Linked DNA regions of Homo sapiens. The protein of the gene in region 1 purifies or fractionates together with the protein of each later gene. This does not show direct contact. Each region holds a gene or a part of one and is shown in the gene's direction. Other genes may lie near its edges.

The links.
Region 2: the proteins of PCDHAC1 (region 1) and ACVR2A purify together in Homo sapiens (affinity purification with mass spectrometry; one large-scale study listed by BioGRID and IntAct). This does not show direct contact.
Region 3: the proteins of PCDHAC1 (region 1) and TNFRSF10B purify together in Homo sapiens (affinity purification with mass spectrometry; one large-scale study listed by BioGRID and IntAct). This does not show direct contact.

The regions. Positions count from the first base shown.
Region 1 is NC_000005.10:140,932,557-140,936,342, forward strand, and holds part of PCDHAC1 (protocadherin alpha-C1 isoform 1 precursor), read left to right. Parts: intron 1-3,786. UniProt on the Homo sapiens protein: Potential calcium-dependent cell-adhesion protein. May be involved in the establishment and maintenance of specific neuronal connections in the brain.
Region 2 is NC_000002.12:147,851,483-147,855,268, forward strand, and holds part of ACVR2A (activin receptor type-2A isoform 1 precursor), read left to right. Parts: intron 1-3,786. UniProt on the Homo sapiens protein: On ligand binding, forms a receptor complex consisting of two type II and two type I transmembrane serine/threonine kinases.
Region 3 is NC_000008.11:23,041,292-23,045,077, reverse strand, and holds part of TNFRSF10B (tumor necrosis factor receptor superfamily member 10B isoform 1 precursor), read left to right. Parts: intron 1-1,834; coding exon 1,835-1,940; intron 1,941-3,786. UniProt on the Homo sapiens protein: Receptor for the cytotoxic ligand TNFSF10/TRAIL. The adapter molecule FADD recruits caspase-8 to the activated receptor.

The DNA.
Region 1 (3,786 bases):
AAGTAGACTTTCCCATAGGGTAATTAGATGTTTTGTATATCTATTTTGACTTTGAAGCTGATAACCACACTAAAAAACTTTAGAATGATGAAACTAAGGAAGTTTGCATGACATATGAAATATATTCAAATTAAAAAACTCATATAGACAACACAATAATATTGTATAATATAGACCCTCAAATCAGTAAAAAGGAAAGAAAAAGAACATTATAATTTGAGTGGACATAAGAGAAAAGCAATACCTTGGAAACATATAAGTGGGAAAGTATTGACAATGTGTCTCATAATGTTAATGACTTATTGTCTTTTGTTGTCTTCAATATTTTCAGTTAGAGGGAAACAATAATATTTCAACAACTAAATTAACTTAGCTAGGTTGGAATGAAGGTGGACTAAATTGCTGAAAGGTTTTTACAATGCTCAAATGCATGTCATATGAATATCGGAAATATTAACACTTGGCAGAACTTCAAGTGAATATGGATTACAGTCCAGGATCCTGACTAAAGTATTATGGGAAGTAAGGAATTTGTTGGTAAAGGTTGTTCTTAAGAAACAAAGCTAAATAATAAAGGTAGATAGCCACTCATTTTGTTCCCAATTTTAATTGATGGCATAAGATAATGGTTCAGGATATAAATAAATTACATGTCTGTTATATTGCATTTATGAAAAAGAAAGGACTATAAACACAAAAGGTTATTATATATTCATTTGGAACTTGTTTTGGAATCTGGAAATAAATATGCAATCTCGTATTCTCCTGTGCTGTAGAGAAAGATAAACACTTTATTTCTAACCCATCCCAAATTCCTTGGCTGTTCCTAGAGCCATCTGGTTACCATCTACAGATATTCTGTGTTCATAGGGGCACTCTAATGACATACCTTCAAAATATACTCTGAATTCAAACACATTATGGTTATTCTTTAGAATTGTTAAGCAAAGACTACAGCTGTTTTGTTTAAACTCAAAATAATGTTAATATAAAATAAAAACCAATTAAGAAGTCTTAATAGTGGGTTTTTAGGTTGATTTGTCTTTTTCTTTTCTTATTAGGTTAGGCTGGCCCTGTTAAACAAGTTGGAAATCCTGTCTCTCTCTCTGTCTCTCTCACATTTTTTTTCCTATTCCTCGGACACATTTACTGAGATTGGTGATACAGCTTTCTTAAATATTTGGTAGAATTCACTAGTGAAGCTCTCTGTACCTACAGTTTTCTTTGTAGGAAAATTTTAATTGAGATCAAATTTCTTTGTATTTTTATTGCTCCTATTTCATTCCTGTACCTTTAATTTTTTCAGATATATGTTAGTTTTATCTGTACTTTTGAATATTTTGGCATAAAGTTGTTTATAATGTCCTGTTGTGACTTTTTTTCACATCTGCAGGATCTGTAGTGATGTTTCCCTTTTCAATCCTGGTGTTAGTGTCACCTCTCATTTTTCTTGACTAGACTTGGAAGTAGTTTATTAATGATATTAGTCTTTCCAAGGCTAACTTTTGGTGTTTTGGGTTCGCTTTGTTGTATGTTTGCTTTCTATTTTATTAATTTTCATACTTTATTAATTTATTTCCTTCCTTATATGTTTATATTTCAGTGTGCAACAGAAGTACTCTAAACATACTTTTCATTTCTATTTCCTCACACAAAATGTTTAAAAGATTTGTACTTAATTGTGGAGATTTATCAAAATTAATAATAATCAGTGCTTCATCAAGGGCATTCTTACTGGTATTTTTCTTACTGCAAATGTCCAATCATGAATGTAATAACCACCAGTACAGTGTGGAGCCACTGCTTTGACTCCTTCTGTGGTTCTATGGTGGCCAGCTTTACCCACCAATGCTTTTGCATTATCAATGCAAGTGTAAATATAGTGAAAAATGCAAATAATGTTTTAACATTATTTTGAAAATTATATTCACCTCATAAACACCCAAAGGGTCCATAGACCACACTTCGAGAGCTACCGTTCTAATTCTATCATTTCTTCTTTTTTTTAATTAATTGTAACATTTCTGTAATGGGTCTTCAACTATTTGATTAGCCTGAGGTACAGTTCACACAGGAAAGGCAGGATAAATGTTTGATTCTTCCCCTTTGTTTAGCAGTATTCAAAACAATGAATTGATTCCTGGCCATCTTACAAAAAGGACCAAGGCCTTTTTTAGGTGTCATTATGAACTCATTGACTTAAACATATTTGATATGGCCCAATCCATGTCAATTATCTTTTTAATGATCAAATTATGCTAACTTTGGCAAGTTGGGAACTGTTCAGCTTTGCTCCTGAGTCTTTGTGAGTGTGTTTGTGTATCTTGTTTTAAACCTTTTATTTTGGAATAATTATGGATTCACATAAAGTTACAAAACTAGTATAGAGAGATCCCATGTGCTTGTCACCCACTTTTCCCCAGTGATAACACCCTGAATCCTTTTCATGTGAGTCTTAATAGTCTTTTGAATGCTTCCTTGATTTCTGGTATTACAAGATGTTCAGATTATCTTGTACATTTCCTTTCCCAGAATCAGCCATTTTTCAAAGAGCTTTCACTTATTTTTAGTGAAAGATGATACTTAGAGATATAATCTCAACAACAGGTGTGCTTATTGCTGCTGGGTCAGTTGCTGTTTCTAGGTATCTTCAGCTACTGAGCTAAGGGATGTCTATTTTTTAAAAGATAAAATACATCACATGTTTATACTAATCTAATAAAGTTCAGCACTCCGAGGTTTTTACTTAACTTCATCAATCTTACATTCCTATTTCTCCCATACGTCAAATCCCAGTTTTCATTAACGTCAACAGAATTACTCATTTGTTATCCCACGGGACTCAAACAATGGACTTAGAAAACAATTTCAGCACTACAGAAATAATATGATACTGTAGCAGTTTAAGTTTTTGTCATTCTTTTCATTTATAAGGCACATCCTTACAAATGCCCAGTAGGCATGTACAGTCAAATTATTGTGTTTTAAAGTATCTTGGAAAAGTTCCTCTCTGTGTAGTTAAGCCACCAGCTAGATACAGAGCTAGGCTTTTTTCAAGTCGCTTTCAAATTTAGGGCTTGCTTTTTAAATTTTAATTTTCTTTTATAATTATGTGAAATATTTACATGGCTCCAAAATAAACTTATAAAACAAAATATATTTAGAGAAGTCTAGTATCTATTATTCCATACAATACACATTCTTCCCCACTTTGAGTTTTTTCACTTAAAAATATAAACGAGATTATTTCATAGTAGTATAGTATTTACACATATTCCATACTGCTTAATGGTGTCTTTTGATTAGCAATTAATGAGCTCCAATTTATCAATATTATCTTTTTTTTTTTTTTTTGAGACAGATTCTCATTCTGTTGCCCAGGCTGGAGTAAAGTGGTACAATCTTGGCTCACTGCAATCTCTGCCTCCCGGGTTCAAGCGATTCTCCCACCTCAGCCTCCCGAGTAGCGGGGATTACAGGCACCCACCACCACACCCGGCTAATTTTTATACTTTTAGTAGAGACAGGGTTTCACCATGTTGGCCAGGCTGGTCTCGAACTCCTGACCTTAAGTGATCTGCCCGCCTTGGCCTCCTAAAGTGCTGGGATTAGAGGCCTAAACCACCACGCCCAGCCAAAGTTGTCTTTTTTATTTAGTATTCTTTCTATCCTTTTAAAGAAAACATATCCTGCTTCAAGTCATGAAGATATATTCCTGTGTTTTCTTCTATAACATTGCTATCCAATAGAACTTTCTGACATGCTATAAATTTTCTCTATCTGCAT
Region 2 (3,786 bases), on another chromosome or scaffold:
TATATTCCATCCATACAGACTTGACTTGCAGTTTCTTAAATGTGTAATCCTTTATTGTATATCAGTATGGTGCCTTTGTACATATTACTCTTCCTCTTCTACCTGGCTAACCCCTTTTTGGTTTTAAGACTGAGAAGTATCACCTCTTTAGAAACATTTTCTCTGTCACTCAACCCAGATTGAGTTAGTTGCTTTCTGTTCATCTAACACCTTGTAAATGACCTTGATTTCAGTAATAATTGCAAATGTTTACTTGCCTGTTTCCACTTTAGACTGTGCAAATGTTTACTTTCCTGTTTCTACTCTTTGAAGACATCTTTCCTTTATCCACACACCCATTCCTGGAACCTGGTACACAATAGGTGCTCAGCAAATGTTTATTAAATGAATGAAATGAAATTATTTCACTTCTCTGAGCCACGGTTGTCCTCTTAATGTATTGAAGTGGTGAACTTGGATTAGATGATCCCTGATTTTTTTTCCTACTCTGAAAGCTTTATGGTTCTATAATTTTAAGGTTAGAGTTCAGTGGTGACATTTTATTAAGAAAAGATGATTTTGCTCATTGTTTTGATATCTTTAAGTTATGTTCAAATTTAAATTTTTTTAAATAATTAAAATTAGAATTTGAATTATATAGATTTAGAGGGGATCTTAGGTATCCTCATGTTCCATGGCTTTCATACTTTTTTGACTGTAATACACAATAGGAATTACACATTGCATTATGACTTAGTTCCCATGTAGTAGTAGGGGTGTATGTATATATGTCTGTGTGCATCAGAAATGAAAGTTTCATGAACTGTGTACTCTTAACTATGTGCAGGACACTTATGTATTTTTATATTACATTTCATTTAAAAAACATTGATCGTGACCCATTAATTGATTCATTGACCAACTAATGGATTGTAAATCCCTAAAACCAGTGACCTAGTTCAACAATCCTTATTTCCTGTATTCAGTACTCTCTTAGTGGAAAAGGAAGCTTCATATGTAAATGTGTGCAATGAAAAATATATGCACTGAAAAATATGGTCATTAATTAATCTACAATAGAGACTGTGTGCCTAGGTATAGAATATAGGGAAAACTGGTCTCAAGGGAGAACATGGCTCTTCCCTGATTAAGGTCTTCTCTCTTTTGGACTAGTCGAATAAATTAAGCACACACGAAGGCGCTGAAACAACATTAGATTGTAATTTTGGGGAGTTGGGATTTTTTAATTTAGGAAAGACTTGCTGGACTTAGTACTGGAAAAAAAGTCTTAGACGGAGATTAGGAAGGATGTTAATATGAAGGAAAAGACACAAAATAGCATCAGGAACACAATAGCCATTTGAGAGTAAACTTGACCATGGATGAAGGCAAGGTGGGATGGAGAAATTTTGACTAAATCTGAGGAAGAGATTTGTGTGATGAAGAGAGTTCACAATTGCTTGAAGAAGTAGGACAATCTCAGGGGGTTAACCCTTAAATTCAAATGAAAAGTAATTAAAACTGAGGAGGTAAGAGTGGATGATACATATCCTGATGTATGTCCCAAATACCCCATATGTGGATATAGGACTGAAAAGCAACTCGAAGACTAAGGTAGAATGGTAGCACTACTAAATAAAATTGGTAAGGAAGTAATGAGCCAGAGGAAAATTGAAAGTGCCTTCATAACTAAAAAAGTTTACAGATAGATATAGTTTTAGATGATAAGCATGAATAGAAATAAAGACATGTATTTGGAAAAATAAGAGTACATAATAAAACATGATAACGTAATATTCTCTTAAAGAGGCAGACACTGTATGATGGATATGTCTTCATTGTGAAGTCTAGTTAAAGAATTCTAAACATTAGTGGCTCAATATGTTGTTTATGTTTAAATGATGGTCAAATTTCAGTAATTACTCATACTGGTCATCCAGATTATATTCTTTGAAATCTGTATGAGACCCTACAGTAAAATACACTGTTCTAAGGAAGTAGATTTAGATGCTTTTCTGAATTTGGTATATGGTATTCACGCTTGAAACCTAAACTTTTCAGTGACCATTCTTTTGGACTAGTTTTTTCTTTGGTTGGCTGTAGTCACACTGGGAATTACTTTATTCTCTAATATTGCTAAAGAAAATAAATGTAAAGCAAGAAGAGAGTTACTACATTAGAAGGACTGGCTACACATGTGGGGAGGGGTTGCCTTTCAAAAGATTTTAAAAATGAATCAAGTCTTTACATATTGTAATAAAAGTAAGCCTATTTATAAAGCTTAGAGGGAGGAGTTTTCGTAGTTATGATTATTAACTTTAAAATTTTTATTTTAAAGGAAAAGTTTATTGTTCTTCCCATCTTCATAACTATATGTGATATATCAAGCTTGCTCCAAGGCATTATTTCAAGAGGAAGGGGCATGGACAAGTTATGAGATCTTGGCACATTTCTAAAACTCTGAGATTAACTTTTAAAATTTGTAAACCAAGATGTATTAAATGAATTGATAACTCCACATAACATGGTAGCTGGTCCAGAGTAGATCTTACATATTAGTTTTTAATCTATCTTTAAGTCCCATTTAAAAGGATATGGTATGTAAAACATTAAAAAATATAGATTTGGTTCTTGGGGGATATTTACATTTGCAGGTTACTTATCAGTCAGTTAATGTGAAATAATACTCTGACTAAATGATACAGCCAAAGAACATATCATTATAGAGAGCCAGATAGCTGCCAATAAATATCTAGAATATTCAGATATCGTGGTTCCTTACAAAGAGTTCTTTAAGGTCTCACTGTTTTAGCATGCATTAAAAAGAAACAATGGACTAAATCGTCTCTATTTATTAGTGGGAATTTAAAATATCTTTTTTTCTTGGACAACTTCTCTTAAACTTTTTAAGTGTTTTAAAACTTTTTAGTAGAAGTAAAGTTTTGAAAGATTCTCAAGTCTGTTTTTTAGGTACCAGCTACTTTAAGCTTTGAAAACACAAAGCTATTCAATGACTGTACTTTGAGATCAATATTTTGAATGTGGTATAATATTTTGGACTAAAACTTAAGAGTCTGTCATTCAAATTCCTACTTTCCTACTGACTCTTCTTTGACCTTTGACAGCCATTAAGATTTCACTTTACTCACCCTAAATTAAAGAGGGTGAAATAGGTATTCATTCACTTAACAAATCAATATTGAACTACATGCTAGACACTATGGTAAGTGCTTGGGATACATTATTAAACATGAAGACAGATATGATTATGCCTTTCTGAAGCTTATAGTCATAAAGTAAGTAGTCAAATGAACAACATAATTACAGATTGTCATACGTGCTCGGACAGAAACTAACAGGGTGCCGAGAGGATTACTCTTTATTTGCCTTATCACATATCACATCTGTTTACTTTATCTGCCTATTTCTTTTTTTTTTGAGACTGAGTCTCGCTCTGTTGGCCAGGCTGGAGTGCAGTGGTGCAATCTTGGCTTACCACAACCCCAGCCTTCCAGTTCAAGTGATTCTCCTGCCTCAGCCTCCTGAGTAACTGGGACTACAGGCATGCGCCACCATGCCTGGCTAATTTTTGTATTTTTGGTAGAGAGGGGGTTTAACCATGTTGGGCAGGCTGGTCTCGAACTCCTGTCTCAAGTGATCTGCCCTCCTTGGCCTCCCAAAGTGCTGGGATTACAGGTGTGAGCCACCGCGCCTGGCCTATTTCTTATTTGTCCTTTCTAATATTAGAATGTAAGCTCTACTGGGGTGGGGAAGGGTGTGACTTTTTCTTAATACTTCCAATGCATG
Region 3 (3,786 bases), on another chromosome or scaffold:
TTTTTTTTTTTTTTTTTGTATTTTATTAGGGACGAGGTTTTGCCATGTTGGCCAGGCTGGTCTCCAACTCCTGGCCTCAAGTGATCCATCCGTCTCGGCCTCCCAAAATGCTGGGATTATAGGCATGAGCCACTGCACCTGGCCTCCTCATTCATTTTTGATTTAATTTATTTGTCTTCTTTCTTTTTTCTTAGTTAGTCTAGTTAAAGTTTAGTGATTTCATTTATTTTTTCAAAAAACTAACAGAATTTTGATAATCTTTTGTATTTTTTTCAGTCTCTATTTATTTTTGCTCTGATTTTTATTATTTCTTTTGTTCTGCTAACTGTGGGCTTAGTGTATCTTTTCTTCTATTTCCTTGAGGTACAACATTAAGTCTTGTATTTGAGATCTTTCTTCTTTTTTGATGTAGGCGTTTATTGCCATTTCCTCTTAAAACTGCTTTTGCTGCATCCCATACATTTGGTTATGTTATGTTTCCATTTCATTTTCTAATATACTCTTAAAATTCCCTTTTGATTTCCTCTTTGACACATTGGCTATTCAGGAGCTTGTTACCATTCAAGTTCTTTGTTCATTTCTTAATCACATTGTTGGCTTTTTGTTGTTGTTGTTGAGTTGGAGTTTTTTATATATTTTAGATATTAACCTTTTATCAGATATACAACTAGCAAATGTTTTCCTCTTCCTGTGGGTTGCCCCTTCACTGTTGATCATCATTGGATGCACAAAAGTTTTTAATTTTTACATAGTGCAATTTATCTACTTTTTTTCCTATATTGCTTGTGTTTTGGGGATCACATTCAAGAAATCATTGCCAAATCCAAGGTCAGGAAGAATAGTTCCTATGTTTTCTTCTAAGTTTTAGGGTTTTCACTTTTATGTTAGATTTTGGATCCATTTTGAGTTAATTTTTGTATACGTGTAAGTTAAAGGTCCGAGGTCATTGTTTTGTGATGAGTCAATGTCTAGATTTCCCAAGACCATTTTTAAAAAGATTGTCCTCTCAATTAAATGGTCTTTATACCTTTGCCAAAAATTACTTGATCATATACAGTCATGCACCACATAACAACATTTCTGTCAACAACAGACTGCATATGTGATGGTGGCTCCATGCAATTATGTAACATGCTACACAGGTTTGTAGCCTAGGAGCAAAAGGCTATACCATATAGGCCAGGTGTGTCATAGGATACACCATCTAGGTTTGTGTAAGTACACTCTTCTGATGTTCACACAACACAATTGCCTAATGACCCTTTGCTCAGAACAATGTTGAGCAATACATGGTTGTACGTGCAAGTTCATTTCTGGGCTCTCTGGTCTATATGTCAGGCACCTTTTAAATCAGAAGTTCACTATTTAATGTTTGATCCTGTATCCCAATTTTTTAAGTTTGCTATATTATAACCCCCATTTATAAAAATGTGTGTCTGTGTGTATGTCTGTGTGAGAGAGAATAAGAGAAAGAGAGAAAGAGAGAATAGGCATACCTATGGAAAAATAGTGGAACTAAATGAGACAAAATATTAATGGATGCTATCTTTAGCTGAGAATATCACGTGTGGTCTGTGTATTCTTGTAAAAACTTTCCTTGCCCACATTTTCTGGAATGAACATGTTTAGAAGAGTTTTGCAGGTGTATGTTACTTGGCCTTCCCTGAAATATGAAGGGACAAACAAACACTAAAGGATGTTTGAGAGGTGAGAGCTGCAAGAAAGATGAGGGTTCTGTTTAGCTTGGGTGCCTGGGCTCAAGAGAATGTGAGTGGATCCTGGGAGGGGTGAGGTCTGGAAGCCACTCATGCCCATCCCTGCTTTGTCCCCACAGGTCTCAGCTGAGTCTGCTCTGATCACCCAACAAGACCTAGCTCCCCAGCAGAGAGCGGCCCCACAACAAAAGAGGTCCAGCCCCTCAGAGGGATTGTGTCCACCTGGTATGTTCAAGATGGGTCTCTAATCCTTGCCCCTCCTCCCCTTGTCTCCATGAGCTTCCAGTCTGTTTCCTTTGCACTTCCTTGTTCTTTATTCCACAGAGAGGCATTGGGTGCCTCCAGTTCAAGGCTCTGTCCTTCTGGAGCCTTCCTGCTAGGATGGTATCAAGACACACAAATGAATGAGACAGCCAAAGAAACTGATAGGAACCTTGAGAGAGAATTGAGTGGGACAGAGATGGGGCTGGTGAGGCCTCCAGGCAATGGTGACTTTGGGCTGACATCCGGAGGAGGGCAGGGCCAGAGGTTCAGAGAGCCAGGAAGAGTGCTCCTAGGAGGGTTCCACTGGAACAATTGCCAGGGGGCAAGAGTTGGAGAAGATGGAGCAACAGCAGGGGGCTGCTGTGGGGAGTGGAGGGTTAGGAAGTTAGAGAGACACGTGGGGTCAGATCCCACACAGATGAAGCTGGATTTTATTTCATGAGTGATGGATGTCCCTGAGAAGTTTTCAGCAGAGGGCCACCAGCATCGGATGTACATCTTGAGTGCCCACTCCTGGACTGAACCGGAGCAAGACAGGAAGCAGGTGGAGGGCCTTGAGTGTGAGGCGCTCCCCTGGGATGTTATGTGGTGTCCCGTAAGGTCATTTGAGCCCCCAGAGATGCAGCAGGAACCTGGCCTGAAGTGTGCTTGACTGTTGTGTTCGCCTCGCACTTCTTCCCCCTTTTCCCCCATGTGTATGAGTTAGGAATTGATTGCTGCATGAAGGTTTCCAGGGCAGGCAAGTGTGGCAAGCAGTGGCTTTTAAAATCCATTTACAAAGTTGCATTTCTTTTCCATGACTAAGGGCCACAGGAAAGGCTTGCCTGAGGGCAAACCCTCACATTGCACATGTGGGCTTGCCAGGAGCAGAGCATGGAGAAGGAAGAACCCAGCGTGAAGCAGACACAAACTCATCTGTAAATGCTCCTATTGCTGTGGTCCAGGGTCAAGACCAGGAAGCAGGACGGGAATAGGAAGGACTCAAGACATATTTGGGGTGTGGATGGATGACGTGTGGGGAATGAGGACAATCGAGGCACCAAATTCAACTGCTCAGGGTAACTTGGCCTCTGAGGGGACAGTGTGTGGCAGGGCTAGCAGTACACATTTGGGGACCCTAGCACATAGGTGATGCTTGAAGCCGCTGTCTTGAGTGTGTCCACCTGGAAGAAGTTGTAAATACTGAGGAGGGGCACAACTGAGCCCATGAGGATTTGAAGTTGGAGACGATAGGCCAGGGAGACAGGACTGCAATGGGCTGAGCAGGAGCAGTTGGAGAACTTCCATCCTAGAGGAGAGATGGCCCTTCCAGCCACAGGGAGCAGGCCATAGCAAGTGTCAAGGACTGAGATGTGGAAACTCCTCGAAATGTGCATTTCTCTTCCTGTGAATGAGGTCAAGAATCTGTTCATGACACAGACACTGTTTGTACACTGGTTCTCCTAGGTTTTCTTCACTCCTAGTAAGAGGTTAGGTTTTTTTTTTTTTTTTTTTTAAATCATTGAGTCACATGAATTCTTACAGATTAGGGAAATTATACATTGATTGATTGATTGATTGACTGATTGAGATAGGATTTCACTCTGTTGCCCAGGCTGGAGTGCGGTGGCAGGATCATAGCTCACTGTAGCCTCAACCACTTGGGCTCAAGCGATCCTCTCACCTCGGCCTTCCAAAGTGTTGGGATTACAGGCGTGAGCCACTGCGCTGGGTCCAAAATTCTAATAAAAATTCCCATATAACGCCGGGCGCAGTGACTCACACCTGTAATCCCAGCACTTCGAGAGGCCAAGGTGGGCAAATCACT